Linked DNA regions of Homo sapiens. The protein of the gene in region 1 interacts with the protein of each later gene in a pairwise test. Each region holds a gene or a part of one and is shown in the gene's direction. Other genes may lie near its edges.

What was found.
Region 2: the proteins of CPNE1 (region 1) and LHX6 interact in binary tests that used the Homo sapiens proteins (3 or more experiments, as listed by UniProt).

The regions. Positions count from the first base shown.
Region 1 is NC_000020.11:35,626,883-35,633,911, reverse strand, and holds part of CPNE1 (copine-1), read left to right. Parts: intron 1-988; coding exon 989-1,117; intron 1,118-1,215; coding exon 1,216-1,395; intron 1,396-1,526; coding exon 1,527-1,601; intron 1,602-1,677; coding exon 1,678-1,749; intron 1,750-1,886; coding exon 1,887-1,967; intron 1,968-2,134; coding exon 2,135-2,224; intron 2,225-2,333; coding exon 2,334-2,420; intron 2,421-2,557; coding exon 2,558-2,644; intron 2,645-2,738; coding exon 2,739-2,798; intron 2,799-2,877; coding exon 2,878-3,011; intron 3,012-3,116; coding exon 3,117-3,171; intron 3,172-3,421; coding exon 3,422-3,473; intron 3,474-6,498; coding exon 6,499-6,632; intron 6,633-7,029.
Region 2 is NC_000009.12:122,204,958-122,211,986, reverse strand, and holds part of LHX6 (LIM/homeobox protein Lhx6), read left to right. Parts: exon of another isoform or gene 1-1,126; intron 1,127-2,269; coding exon 2,270-2,373; intron 2,374-7,029. UniProt on the Homo sapiens protein: Probable transcription factor required for the expression of a subset of genes involved in interneurons migration and development.

The DNA.
Region 1 (7,029 bases):
TCTCGGCTCACTGCAACCTCCACCTCCTGGGTTCAAGCAATTCTCCTGCCTCAGCCTCCTGAGTAGCCAGGATTATAGGCACACGCCAACATGCCTGGCTAATTTTTGTATTTTTTTTTTTAGTAGAGACGGGGTTTCACCATGTTGGCCAGGCTGGTCTCAAACTCCTGACCTCAAGTGATCTGCCCACCTTGGCCTCCCAAAGTGCCAGGATTACAGGCATGAGCCACTGTGTCCGGCCTCACTTATGTTTTAATAGGATCGCCCTGATTGCTGTATTTAGAATAGCCTGTTGGGGTGGACATGGGGGAACGGAGGTGGAGACAGCATAGAATAAGGGAGACCAGTTGAAGAGGCTAATGCTGTAAGCCAGGTGACAAACAGTGATGGCTTAGATTGGGCAGCAGCAGTGGAAATAGTGAGGAGTTGAACATTAGCAGTAGAGGTGAGGAGAATTAGTAGGGGGATCATAACTCCACCACAAGAGTTAGATCCCCAGGGTTAGTGAGAAATTATTGGAAGAAGATAATTTGTGGAGGATATTATCTGGATCATAGTTATATTTGGGGTTATGTTAGGATCAGAACTTGGATTAGGGTCTGGCCTGGGGCCAGTAAGGGGGTCAGAAAGATTTATTGGTCTTTGCAAAGACCAAGATTAGAGTCTGGGTTTGGACAGCCCTATTGGGATTAAGACAAATTTTAGGGTGAGGATAGTTTGGGGTCACAGTTGTAGATGGAGGCTAGTACCCCTTTTCAATATCTTCAGACCAGGGTTGGTTGTATCTGCCATCTTCTGTGCCAGTGAGCTCACCTAGGGGTGGAGGGGTTTGGAGGCTATGAGGCCTTCTCTTCCTTGGGTGTCACGGGGGTGGACGTATGCTCAGCCCTGCCTGGGTGATGCCTGCTGGCCTTCCCAAGCTGGGACCTGTAGTCGGGGAAGGGGAGAGAAGGCTCCCTGGTGCTTGACCCAGCTCCTTTTCCCTCAGATGGCCCACTGCGTGACCTTGGTTCAGCTGTCCATTTCCTGTGACCATCTCATTGACAAGGACATCGGCTCCAAGTCTGACCCACTCTGCGTCCTTTTACAGGATGTGGGAGGGGGCAGCTGGGCTGAGGTGAGGCGGATTATGGAGGTTAAGGTTGTGGAGGGAGGCTAGGATTGTGTTTTGGGGTGGAGGCTGTGACTGTGATGCTTACTGGCCTCTGCCCACAGCTTGGCCGGACTGAACGGGTGCGGAACTGCTCAAGCCCTGAGTTCTCCAAGACTCTACAGCTTGAGTACCGCTTTGAGACAGTCCAGAAGCTACGCTTTGGAATCTATGACATAGACAACAAGACGCCAGAGCTGAGGGATGATGACTTCCTAGGGGGTGCTGAGTGTTCCCTAGGACAGGTATGTAGGGCTGGGGATTAGGATCCTTCAGATGCAGGTCTGTGAGACAACCTAGCCTGCCTGGAGGTAGGGGGCAAGCAGGACCTAACCCTGCCTGTTATCCTGAAACTCCCTTCCCTGCTTTTCCCCAGATTGTGTCCAGCCAGGTACTGACTCTCCCCTTGATGCTGAAGCCTGGAAAACCTGCTGGGCGGGGGACCATCACGGTAAGGAACCCAGCAAGGGTTGAGGAGGGACTTAACATCAATGAATTCATGAGGTGATGTAGTCTCCCCTACCTAGGTCTCAGCTCAGGAATTAAAGGACAATCGTGTAGTAACCATGGAGGTAGAGGCCAGAAACCTAGATAAGAAGGTGTGTCTGGAAGTAGGCCCTGGTAATCCAAGAGTTAAGGGGCCAAGGATGGTGTATGGGGGATGGGGGTGTGGACAGAGGGATGGCATAATGGTTGTTTGTTCCTGAGTCTTGTAACTGGGGTCTCGCATTGGCAGGACTTCCTGGGAAAATCAGATCCATTTCTGGAGTTCTTCCGCCAGGGTGATGGGAAATGGCACCTGGTGTACAGATCTGAGGTATGAGACCCCTGGGATTGGGTGGGCTGGGGTAGGAGATAATCTCCTGGGGCCTGTGACTAGCAAGGTTTGGAACTCAGAAAGAGACTGCAGGTGGGTAGAGAAGTGTGGCAGCTCCTCAGGGGGCCATGCCAGAGCTCACTGGAGGCCTTGGCCTCCACCTTCAGGTCATCAAGAACAACCTGAACCCTACATGGAAGCGTTTCTCAGTCCCCGTTCAGCATTTCTGTGGTGGGAACCCCAGCACACCCATCCAGGTGAGGAGCTTGCCCCCTAAGTGGACTGCGCTGGAGAAGAGAACCTGGGGAGGGACTTATTCTCATCTGCCACCTGGCTTGTTTATGTCCACACACACCTTTCCCTCAGGTGCAATGCTCCGATTATGACAGTGACGGGTCACATGATCTCATCGGTACCTTCCACACCAGCTTGGCCCAGCTGCAGGCAGTCCCGGTGAGTGCTGGTCTTGCCAGGGGTGTGGAAATGGGCCTAGATAGCTGAAGCTTGTGGGAGAGAGGAAGGAGAAGGCAGCTCGAGTCCTTGACTGATGCTCTGAGAATTTCCTACCCTAATTTTTCTGTCCTCACCAGGCTGAGTTTGAATGCATCCACCCTGAGAAGCAGCAGAAAAAGAAAAGCTACAAGAACTCTGGAACTATCCGTGTCAAGATTTGTCGGGTGAGACAAAAGCCCATGTAACCAAGGCTCTGATTCCTGAGCTCCATGACACCAACTGCTATCACCCCAGGCATGACCCTGGTTTCATTTGCAGGTAGAAACAGAGTACTCCTTTCTGGACTATGTGATGGGAGGCTGTCAGATCAACTTCACTGTAAGTTACTTTACCAAGGGCAAGAGAACAGGTCTGGGGCTCAGGGTGGCCTTTAGCTGCCTTCCTCACCTCCTCCCAGGTGGGCGTGGACTTCACTGGCTCCAATGGAGACCCCTCCTCACCTGACTCCCTACACTACCTGAGTCCAACAGGGGTCAATGAGTACCTGATGGCACTGTGGAGTGTGGGCAGCGTGGTTCAGGACTATGACTCGTGAGTACCTGCTTCTCTGGGCTATACCCGCTCCCTGCAGATGCTTCAGCCTCTGAGCTTACAGTCCCCTCACTGCCTTTTGCCCAATACACTGTCCTCCCACAGAGACAAGCTGTTCCCTGCATTTGGATTTGGGGCCCAGGTTCCCCCTGACTGGCAGGTGAGCTCCCTCTCTTTCTGCCACTCCTGTTTTCAGTTTCAGGGTCCTGATTTTGGGGGATGTGGTAAATTTACTTGCTACTTGGCACTCAGCTTTAAGAGGAGATGCAGGGTTGGATTCCTGCAGGCACGTAGACAGCAAGTGCTCAGGACTCCATAGCTCCTATAGGAATCTTGGCACACGCCAGTGTCCTTTTTCATTCTTAGCAGAGGTCATGGGGAAAGAACCTCATTTTCATTCTTGTCTCCAGGTCTCGCATGAATTTGCCTTGAATTTCAACCCCAGTAACCCCTACTGTGCAGGTAAGTTTCCCCATCCACCCTGAGGCAGGTCTGTCCACACAAAGAGGGGCAAGCCTGCATGAGTAAAAGGGAGAGTGGGGGCAGATACCTGCCTTCATTGTCCAGAGGGTGGATTTTATTTAATTTTAGTTTAATTTATTTTTTGAGAAAGAGTCTTGCTCTGTCACCCAGGCTGGAGTGCGGTGGCGCAATCTTAGCTCACTTGCAACCTCTGCCTACTGGGTTCGAGCAATTCTTCTGCCTCAGCCTCCCAAGTAGCTGGGACTACAGTCGCTTGCCACCGTGCCTGGCTAATTTTTGTATGTTTAGTAGAGACGGGGTTTTGCCATGTTGGCCAGGGTGGTCTCGAATTCCTGACCTCAGGTGATTGACCTGCCTTGGCCTCCCAAAGTGCTGGGATTACAGGTATTGAGCCACAGCGCCTGACCCAGAGGGTGGATTTTAGAGCTAGGCCTCTGGAATCAAATCGTCATGCCAGGCCAGGAGTGGTGGCTCACGCCCGTAATCCTAGCACTCAGTTGCGAGGCCAAGGTGGGTGGATCGCTTGAGCCCAGGAATTTGAGACTAGCTTGGGAAACATGGCAAAACCCCATCTCTACTAAAATTACAAAAATTAGCCGAGCATGATGGCAGGCGCCTGTAGTTCTAGCTACTCAGGAGGCTGAGGTGGGAGGATCACCTGAGCCCAGGAGGTTGAGGTTGTGGTGAGCCATGATCATGATCATGCCACTATACTCCAGCCTGGGTGATAGAGTGAGAACCTATCTCAAAAAAAAAAAAAAATGATGCCACATGACTTGGGGCAGGTTGCTTAATCTCTGTGTGCTTTGGTTTCATAAGACTAAACATAGGAAATTGAGTACTCAAGGAGAGGATACAAGTAAAGCAGTAAGCCTGGTACTTACTAAGTGTTCTCCGAAAAATGGTATCTGTTATATTATCGTTATTATCTTTGCCTAGAAGCTAACAGGTACTTACTTGAGCATCAGTGGAAGCCTTGTTTGCCTCCTTGCAGGGTGCATTTTGCCAGAGTCCACCAAGCCCTTTTGTTTAGGGCCAAACCTTTTGACTCCCCAGTACCCCCAAGGGGGCACAAGCTGAAGTGGAAAATCTGACCTGACCTGATCTGATCTGGGTTTTAAAATTTTAATTTTGTATTTCAACATAAGTTCAGACTTAGAGAAAAGTTGCAAGAATAGTCATAGGAGCTCAGTCCCTTGGAACTCAGGGGTCAGGGCCTGAGTTCACAGGGGCTCTTCACCTTTATCCCAATTACCCTAACATAACATTTTACCACATTTGTTTTCTCTTTTCTCATACATGTATACAGTGTGTATGTGTGTGTATATGTGTGTGTGTGTGTACACATGTATACATATACACACACATTCACACATTTCAAGGGAAAAAAGATTAAAAATATGTGTTTATGTATGTACACACATGTATACGTGTGTTGGAGAATGCTGTAGTGAATAGCCCTGCCTCAGGTTTGCTTCTATGGCCCTACCAGCTTTGTACCCATCATTATCCACCTGGCTTTTTACCTCTGAGTACTTCAGTATCTCCTAAAATCAAAGACTCTTTCTTACATTATCACAGACCAATCCTCAAAATCAGGAAATGAACATCTATGCTATTATCCAGCCTATAGCATTTATTCAGATGTTGCCAATTGTCCTAATGTCTTTTACAGCAAAAGAAAATCTCAGATCACACATTGCGTTCAGTTAGCACATATCTTTTTATATGGAAGACTTCTTGCCTTTCATGACATTCACATTTCATGATATAAACAGTATAGGCCAGATATTTTCTAGAATGTCCCTCAGTTTGGGTTTACCTGATAAATCCTCAGGATTAGATTCAGGTTGTACATTTTTGGCAGGAATACCACCAAAGTGATGCTGTATATTCTCAGTGCATCATATTCAGAGGAACATGATGTTGATTTGTCCTATTACCAGTCATGTTGACTTTGGTCACTTAGTTAAGGTAAGATCTACCAGGTTTCTCCACTATACAAGTACTATTTTCTCCTTTCTATTTAGTAAGTATATTCTGGGAAGAGACTATACAAATACTCATCACACACACATCAACATTCCCCTCTAGTTTTTTTTTTTTTAATTTATTTTTTATTTTTTATTTTTTGAGATGGAGTCTTGCTCTGTCACCCAGGCTGGAATGCGGTGGCGCGATCTTGGCTCACTGCAAGCTCCACCTCCTGGGTTCACGCCATTCTCCTGCCTCAGCCTCCCGAGTAGCTGGGACTACAGGCGCCCACCACCACGCCCGGCTAGTTTTTTTTTTGTATTTTTAGTAGAGACGGGGTTTCACTGTGTTAGCTGGGATGGTCTCAATCTCCTGACCTTGTGATCCGCCCGCCTCAGCCTCCCAAAGTGCTGGGATTACAGGCCTGAGCCACTGCGCCCGGCCTTAGTTTTTTTATTTTTTAAGTGACGGGGGTCTCACTATGTTGCCTAAGCTGGCCTTGAACCCCTGGGCTCAAGCAGTCCTCCCACCTCAGCCTCGTGAGTAGCTGGGACTACAGGCACATGCCACTGTGCCTGGCTATACTCTCTAGTTTTAACATCCATTGATGATCCTTGCCTGAATCAGTCATTTCTGTGATTGTCAAATGATTGTGTAATTCTTCCTTTTACATTTATTAGGAGCTTTCCCTTCTCCCTCAGTAATTAATCCATAGTACGGATCCTTATTGTATCAAATGGATCATTATTAAATAGGTTATAATCTGATGCTCAAACTCTCCTGGATTTGTCCAGGAGAATCCCTCTCATCTGGGTGCTAATTCAAGCTGTGATTTAGGGCAAGTCCCCTCCTCTCTTTGAACCTTAGTTTCCTCATGTGTAGGAGACAGTTAAGTACCCTGGTTTACAAGGGTGAATGAATGAAATGCACCCAGGTTCCGAGATCTCCTGGGCTGGGATGGGGTGATTTCAGGACTGGTGTAGTCCTGAGAGGTCCAGGATTTTACGGTATTTCTTGCTCTCCTCTGCAGGCATCCAGGGCATTGTGGATGCCTACCGCCAAGCCCTGCCCCAAGTTCGCCTCTATGGCCCTACCAACTTTGCACCCATCATCAACCATGTGGCCAGGTTTGCAGCCCAGGCTGCACATCAGGGGACTGCCTCGGTGAGAGTCGTGGGTGGCAGTGGCAGTGGTGGCAATCAAGGGCTTCCTTGAGGGTTATGGAACAAAGGACTTTTTTTTTTTTTTTTTTTTTTGAGATGGACTCTTGCTCTGTCACCCAGGCTGGAGTGCAGTGACGCGATCTCAGCTCACTGCAACCTGCACCTCCTGGGTTCAAGTGATTCTCCTGCCTCAGCCTTCCTAGTAGCTTGGATTACAGGCGTGTGCCACCATGCCCAGCTAATTTTTATATTTTTAGTAGAGACGGGCTTTCACCATGTTGGCTGGGGTGGTCACAAACTCCTGACCTCAAGTGATCCGCCTGCCTTAGCCTCCCAAAGTGCTGGGATTACAGGTGTGAGCCATCGCACCCGGCCTGTAACAAGGGACTTCTTATGAG
Region 2 (7,029 bases), on another chromosome or scaffold:
TCCATTTCTGAACTATCTGCTCAATAGGAGCGACATTTTCCCCCTTTCTTTTCTAAACAATAACTATATTCAGGCTGCACAGAGCCTGTTAAAGGTGCCAAGGATCAGGGGCGCTATAAGTACCAGGGGTCTGAGCTACCTGCTAATACTTGGTGTAGAGTCAATAAGAAATCTAGATGATCCCTTTGGACTTGGGGCCATGACCTCCAGAGTCCCTGCCAGGACTCTGTCCATACACTCTGTTGACCAAACTTAGATCTGTCTTTGCTGCTTAGAGAAGAGGCTGAGGTGCCCTCTCCTCTTACCCTTGTGGTGGAACTCAGCTTGGGGAAGAAGAGGTTGGGGGTGTGTGCACCTGCACCTCCTGCTGCATGACTGACTGAGAGTCACCACAGCAGTTTGCTCTATGGTAAACTACAGTCATGGAGTTGTGAATTTTCTGAAGCCTTAAGCTGGGAAGCTAATGAAAGTGTTAGAACCAGACCCCAGAAAAATGAGTTTTTCTGTAGAGTTTGCTCTGCGGTTAACTAAAGTCACAGAATACTGAGTTTCCTGGAGGCTTCGAGCTTGGAATCTGATAAAAGCTTTGGAACCAGACCCCAGAAAAATGCAGATGTACATACATTTTCCAAGTAATCTGAAGTTGTATATGGACTCCTTGAACACCCCAGGTGAAGAACTCCCAATTTAATATAACTCCTTTATTCTACAAATGGGAGAACTGTGGCTCAGAAGGGCACAGTGAATTGTCCCGGTTTATATATCAGTTGTAAGTGTCTCTACAATGCCCTTTCCCTGTGACCAAAGAGAATGAAGCCTAAAGAAGAGACCAGCAATGGACTTCTCCGCTGTAGTGATAAACAGGCTGAAGCATGAGAAATTTGGATCCGACCCAAAGGTGGACTTTCCCCAACAGTTTTAGATGTTGGAATATGGTATAGAAATTCATTCAGCACATACTTAAGAGTACCTACTAAATGCCATGCCTCACTCTAGGTGCTGGAAATCCACAAAGATCTAGAATCTAGAAAACATACAAAAAATTCCTGCCCTCGTGGAGCTTTGCATTCTAGTTGGCAAAGACAGATAATATCAAATAAATAATAAAAATATGCAGTAAGTCAGGCTGGGCGTGGTGGCTCACACCTGTAATCCCAGCACTTTGGGAGGCCGAGGTGGGCAGATCACTTGAGGTCAGGAGTTCAGGACCAGCCTGGCCAATATGGTGAAACCCCCTCTATACCAAAAAATACAAAAATTAGCTGGGCATGATGGTACATGCCAGTAGTCCCAGCTACTCAGGAGGCTAAGGTGGGAGAATCACTTGAACCCAGGAGGCAGAGGTTGTACTGAGCAGAGATGATGCCGCTGCCCTCTAGCCTGGGTGACAGAGTGAGACCCTGTCTCAAACAAAAATGCAGTTAAGTCAGATGATAAGTGCTAAGGAAATAAAGCCGGGAGGAAGACAGGGAGGGTAGGAGATAGGTGTTGGTGTTGGTTGCAGTCGTAAAGAGAGAGGTGACATACGAGTACAGAGTCCTCTAAGAGGCATGGGTAAAGTCATGGTGATACCTAAGAGATATGAACTTACTGAGGGAGGGTCTGAATAGATGGGGCACAGCCTTGCTTGCAGGGCCTGAATAGGCAGGGTACAGACTTGCTTGCATGCGCATGAATATGAAAACACATATTTATTTAGGAGTGTTTATCAGTGAGCTAGATGGTTATACCTCACTCTCACGTAGCTCTTTATAAAGAGCATCACAATTGGCCGGGCACGGTGGCTCATGCCTGTAATCCCAGCACTTTGGGAGGCCGAGGCGGGCAGATCATGAGGTCAGGAGATCAAGACCGTCCTGGCTAACACGGTGAAACCCCATGAGGTCAGATCAAGACCATCCTGGCTAACACGGTGAAACCCCGTCTCTGCTAAAATACAAAAAATTAGCTGGGCGTGGTGGTGGGCACCTGTAGTCCCAGCTACTTGGGAGGCTGAGGCAGGAGAATGGCCTGAACCTGGGAGGCAGAGCTTGCAGTGAGCCAAGATCGTGCCACTGCACTCCAGCCTGGGCGACAAGGTGAGACTCCGTCTCAAAAAAAAAAAAAGATCATCACAACCAACCCTACTGAAACCTTGCCCAGGGCTACCCAGGAGGTAAGTGGCAGAGATGAAACTGGTTTCAGGGCTCCAGTCTGTAGAGAGCACGGGGCAGGTGGGATCCTGTGTGCAGCCTGGGGGATGAGCTCCAAGGCATCCTCTCGTCCACAGGTCAGGTACAGTGCGGGCAGGTGCACTGCCGGCTGCCTTACACCGCACCCCCCGTCCACCTCAAAGCCGATATGGATGGGCCGCTCTCCAACCGGGGTGAGAAGGTAAATGGAGCCAGGTTGGGTCTGGTGGGTCAGAGCCACCCTGCTGGGGATGGGTTTCTGGCAGCATCCTCTGTTAACCATTTGGTACCATGCTGCGCTGTGGCAGACCCTGTCTGCCCGGCCTGCTGAGACCCCCACCGCACCCCCACAGCAGTCACTGGAGCGGTGGTTGCTAGTGTGTTCTGTGTGCATGGCCACTCCGAAGGCCTCCTTGCAGCTCCCCACTGGCAGTTTGCCCTGCTCTGTCTTAGATTTGTGAATTTCCTTTACTCAAGCTTTAAGTTCCAGGGAGGGCTTATATCACTCATCACCCCACTTCCCATCATCTCACTGGTTTCTCCTTTTCATTCTTGTCTGTTGGGAGTGAATATCCTGAGCTGATGGGGTTCAGGGATAGCTGGCCAGCCAGTGACCTTGGTCAACTGGCAGGGCCTCCTCTGTGGAGCCAGGATTTCTGGTTGTCTCAGGCTTTAGGACTGCACTTCTAAAAGGGTGCTTAGCTGTCCCCATTCCAGGGCTTCAAGGTATTATTTCTGAAGCAATGCAACCCTTTGTTTAAACTTGTCCATAGTGCAGATGAAGGTGGATGGAGCTGCTCTGAAACCATGGAGAGAGGAGGAGACTTACCTCCCTCCCAGCTCCAAGACACCTCACAGTTAGCCTCGAAAGCCAGTGCTGTCAGACAACCCTTCATTTTAGAAATGGGAACGTTGAGGCCCAGATAGCTCAAAGTCAGAGATTGGATGAGAACCTTGCTTTTTTTTTTTTTTTTTTTTTTTAGACAGAGTTTCACTCTTATCGCCCAGGCTGGAGTGCAATGGCGCAATCTCGGCTCACTGCAACCTCCACCTCCTGGGTTCAGGTGATTCTCCTGCCTCAGCCTCCCGAAGTAGCTGGGATTACAGGCGCCTACCACCATGCCCAGCTAATTTTTTTGTATTTTTAGTAGAGATGGGGTTTCGCCACGTAGGCCAGGCTGGTCTTGAACTGCTGACCTCAGGTGATCCACCCGCCTCAGCCTCCCAAAGTGCTGGGATTACAGGCGTGAGCCACCGTGCCCGGCCGAACCTTACATTTTTTAATTCACTGACTTGTTTATTTGGAGACATTTCCTATGTCTTGTCTGTGCCCAGCATCCATGAATCTGTTGCTAGGAGTGGAAACAAGTAAAGTGTGGTCCCTACCCTTGAGGAGGCCAGAGTCTGGAGGGGGAGGCAGATCCCAACAGTTACAATACAGTGTGACAGGGGAAGCCATGGGAGCTGGGGAGGGGGAAGGGGGCAAAGGAGAGAGGCAGGGAAGACTTCCCAGAAGAGGCAACCTCTAAGGCCAGGCCTGAAAGCTGAGGCATCAGGGAAGGCATGAGACACCAGAGCTCTCAGGGAACCCTGAGCCATTCAGCATTGTTGGCAGGCATGTCTGGGAGGATGAGAGGAGGAAAGCGAGAGCCTTGAGGCTGCCAGGTGGAAGAGTCTGTATTTTATGCTGCGGCAGTGTGGGGTCCTGGAGGGCCTGCTGCAGAAACATCACTGTAGCAGTCTTCAGAGACTGCTGGGTTGGAGGACACCCAGTAGGAAGCAGGGATCCCTGGAGGTCAGTGGGTGTGGCAGTCCCTCGGAGGGAGAGGGTCAGAGCATTAGGGCTGGAGTCAGGAGCCCTCCAGTTCAGCAGATCCCGGTCTTGGTGTGCTCGGAATCACCTGGGCAGCTTGTAAATATACAGAGATTCCTAAGCCTCGCTCTCAGAGAGTCTGTTGGGGTGGGATATAGGGATCTGCGAGTGTAATACTCAGCCTGTGTGATTCTAACGGGCAGCCGGGGTGGGGACAGCTCCTTTAGGATGGTACCTCTGGCTCAGCCTCCTGATTGAGCTCAGTACACCTAGTATGTACTGAGCTCTCTGTGCCGGGCACCACAGGAGAATGTGTATGGTGTGGAGGTACAGACAGCCCTGGACAGATACATTTGTAAATAAATGGTAGTGCCTAACGTAAAATCCTGCAGAATCTGTAGTGAGTGAGCATGCCCCAGGAACACCATCGCCGCTGAGACTGTCACATCCATAGGAAGAGCTGCCGTTTGCTGAGCTCCTTCTGTTCAAGGCAGCTACTTCTCACATGGCATCTGGTTCACACCTCCCAGCCACTTTGTGGACATAGAGATGGCCTTCTCATTGTAAAGAGATAAACAGATTCCGAGAGGTGACATGACTTGTCCAGGGATGCAGCGAGTCTGTCGGACTCTGAAGTCTGCGCGGCTCAGTAATCACTTCCTTTTGTGCAGCACTTCATTGTGTACACAGCCCTCTCTCCGACCTCATCCTTCATAGTCTCCCTGGGAGGGTGATTGCGATGACCTCCATTTCACACTTGCAGAAACGGAGGCTCAGACAGAGCAGTGCTCATCCAGAATCACAATGTGAGCATGGGCAGAACTGGCCGGGATCCTAGAGCCACCTGCCTCAGAGCTGTCCCTTCCTGTGGGAGGGGATTCATCCTATTAGACCTGGCTCTGGGACTGCAGAAGTGAGCTGACATGATCCCTGCCCTCAGGGAGCTTGTGGCTTAGCACAGGGTGTGGGCAGTTACATTGCAGGGGAATGGGCAGCTGGAGTAGGCGAGAAACTTGACCTTAGAGGACCCAGAAGAGGAGGCAGTGAGCTCTAGGGGAGAGACAGGGGACAAGAAGAAGGGTGTTCCACATCAAGAGAACCGCATGTGCAAAGGCCCAGAGGCATGGAGGAGCTTGGGCCGGAGGGGACCCTGGGGGACGTTCAGTGTGGCTGAGGTCCAGGGAAGTGGGGAGAGCCGACAGGGGCCACAGAACAAAGGATCATGGAAAGAGGGTCTTGGACATTATGTGGAGGGCAGGGATGGGCCCTGGAGGTACAGAGGGCTGGGCTCAGTGCTTGGAGAGGAGCCTTTGCCTCCTGGTTGCTCAGCTAAGCTTGTGGTTCTGTCTCATTCAGCCTGGGGGATGAGCCATGCTGGGGGCTGTCAGATTTGGCTATAGACAGTTTCTGGCTTCTGGATTTGGCTGCTGAGCCAGAGTTTTCCCTTGCTGGGCTGTGTCCCCAACTTTGCACCCAGAAAGTCTGCATTAAAGTGTCTCTCCCTCCTTCATGACCTTCTGTCCTCTCACTGTCAGGCCTTTCCGCCAGCTCCTAGGGACTTTTCTTGTCCATAACTCTCAAATTCCTGGGGCTTGGTGGGCGGCAGGGTGTGGTATGTGTGTGGCCAGCACAGGATTGTCTGGGCTTTCTTCCAAGTCCTTCCAGGCCTGAGCCTGCCTAGCTGTGAGGAGACTCAGTGTCCCCATGGGGCTGGCCCCTGAACCCACTCATCTAGACCAGCACTGGCCTGGCCAGGAGAACAGTGCTCTGAGCACTCAGGGGAGCATCCCCTGCCTCCACCGCATCGTCATTTGGCCACACACACCTGTGAGGTTCCAGAGCCACATTTCTTCCTGGTTGTGTCCCCTGATCCCACAAATCCAACACTTGGAAAGTTCTTAGAAATCAGGGCTAAGCTGTCATTGATCAGTGGAGGAGACTGAGACCCATGGAGGGGAAGGGTCCTACCAGGGTCGCCACTCTTGAGAGAGCTTTTCCTAATAAGGGCTAAAAGCCAGGCATTCTGGAGGCCAAAGTGGAGCAGTGGCCAGGGTGGGGAAGGAATGCCCACCCTGGCCACTCTGGAGTTAGGCCAGCTCGGAATCCCAGCTCTGCCACCTCCCCTGTGAGATCTGGGAATGCAATTAGTTTCTCTGAGCTGCGGTTTCTACATCTGCAAACTGGGGATAATAATAGTTCCCACTCCGTAGGGTTGCTGCAGAGAATAAATGCATAATGTGTGTAAGGAGCCCAGCACAGAGCCTGGTGCACAGAAAATGCCCCCAGGTGTTGGTTATGATCATGATCACTATTATGGTGATCATCATCATTGCTTTCCTCCATCACCTCCTTGTGATAACCAGTTCTGGGCAAGTAACATTCCTGATCAGAAAAGGGAACAGCCATGTAGTCATGCCCACCAGATGCCCCTCACACTTTACTGTGAAATGACACATTGCCATTGACCAGCCAGCCAGTGATCCTTGACCTGAACTTCAGGGAACTGGCTGTGTCAGCAGCAGTGAGATGTCAACCAAGTGCTAGAGGTGGGAGTGGGAGGGGGAAAGGGACAGACAGTCCTGATCTCCCACTGTGTATCGGGCACCCAGTGTGTCTGAGCCACGCACTTCTAGGCTTCGTGCATGTGAAGATTAAGCGCATGTGAAGTGCTTAGCCCGTGGCCCTGTGGGTAATAAGCAGTCAGCCACTATGGTCACGGTGACCTTGGAAAGGTAGAGGCAATGTGCTTTGGTAGGGAGAGCTTGCTGTGAGCCAGGCCTGGCCTCCAGTGCCAGGTCCTCCTCCTCGCTGTGTGCCCACGAGCTCACTCGCTTCCACCTCTTTGAGCCTGAGTGCCCTCCTTGTAAAACAGAACGTTGGAACTCCCTCACGGGGCTATGGTGCGGCTTCCGTGAAATCAGGCACAGAAGGTGCAGGGTGAAATGCCCAGAAGGCTTTTGCTGCTGCTGTTGTATCTCATTGAATCTCTCTGATTCTCAGAGAGAGATTTTGTCATCCTTGTTTTAAAGATGAGGAAACAGGCTC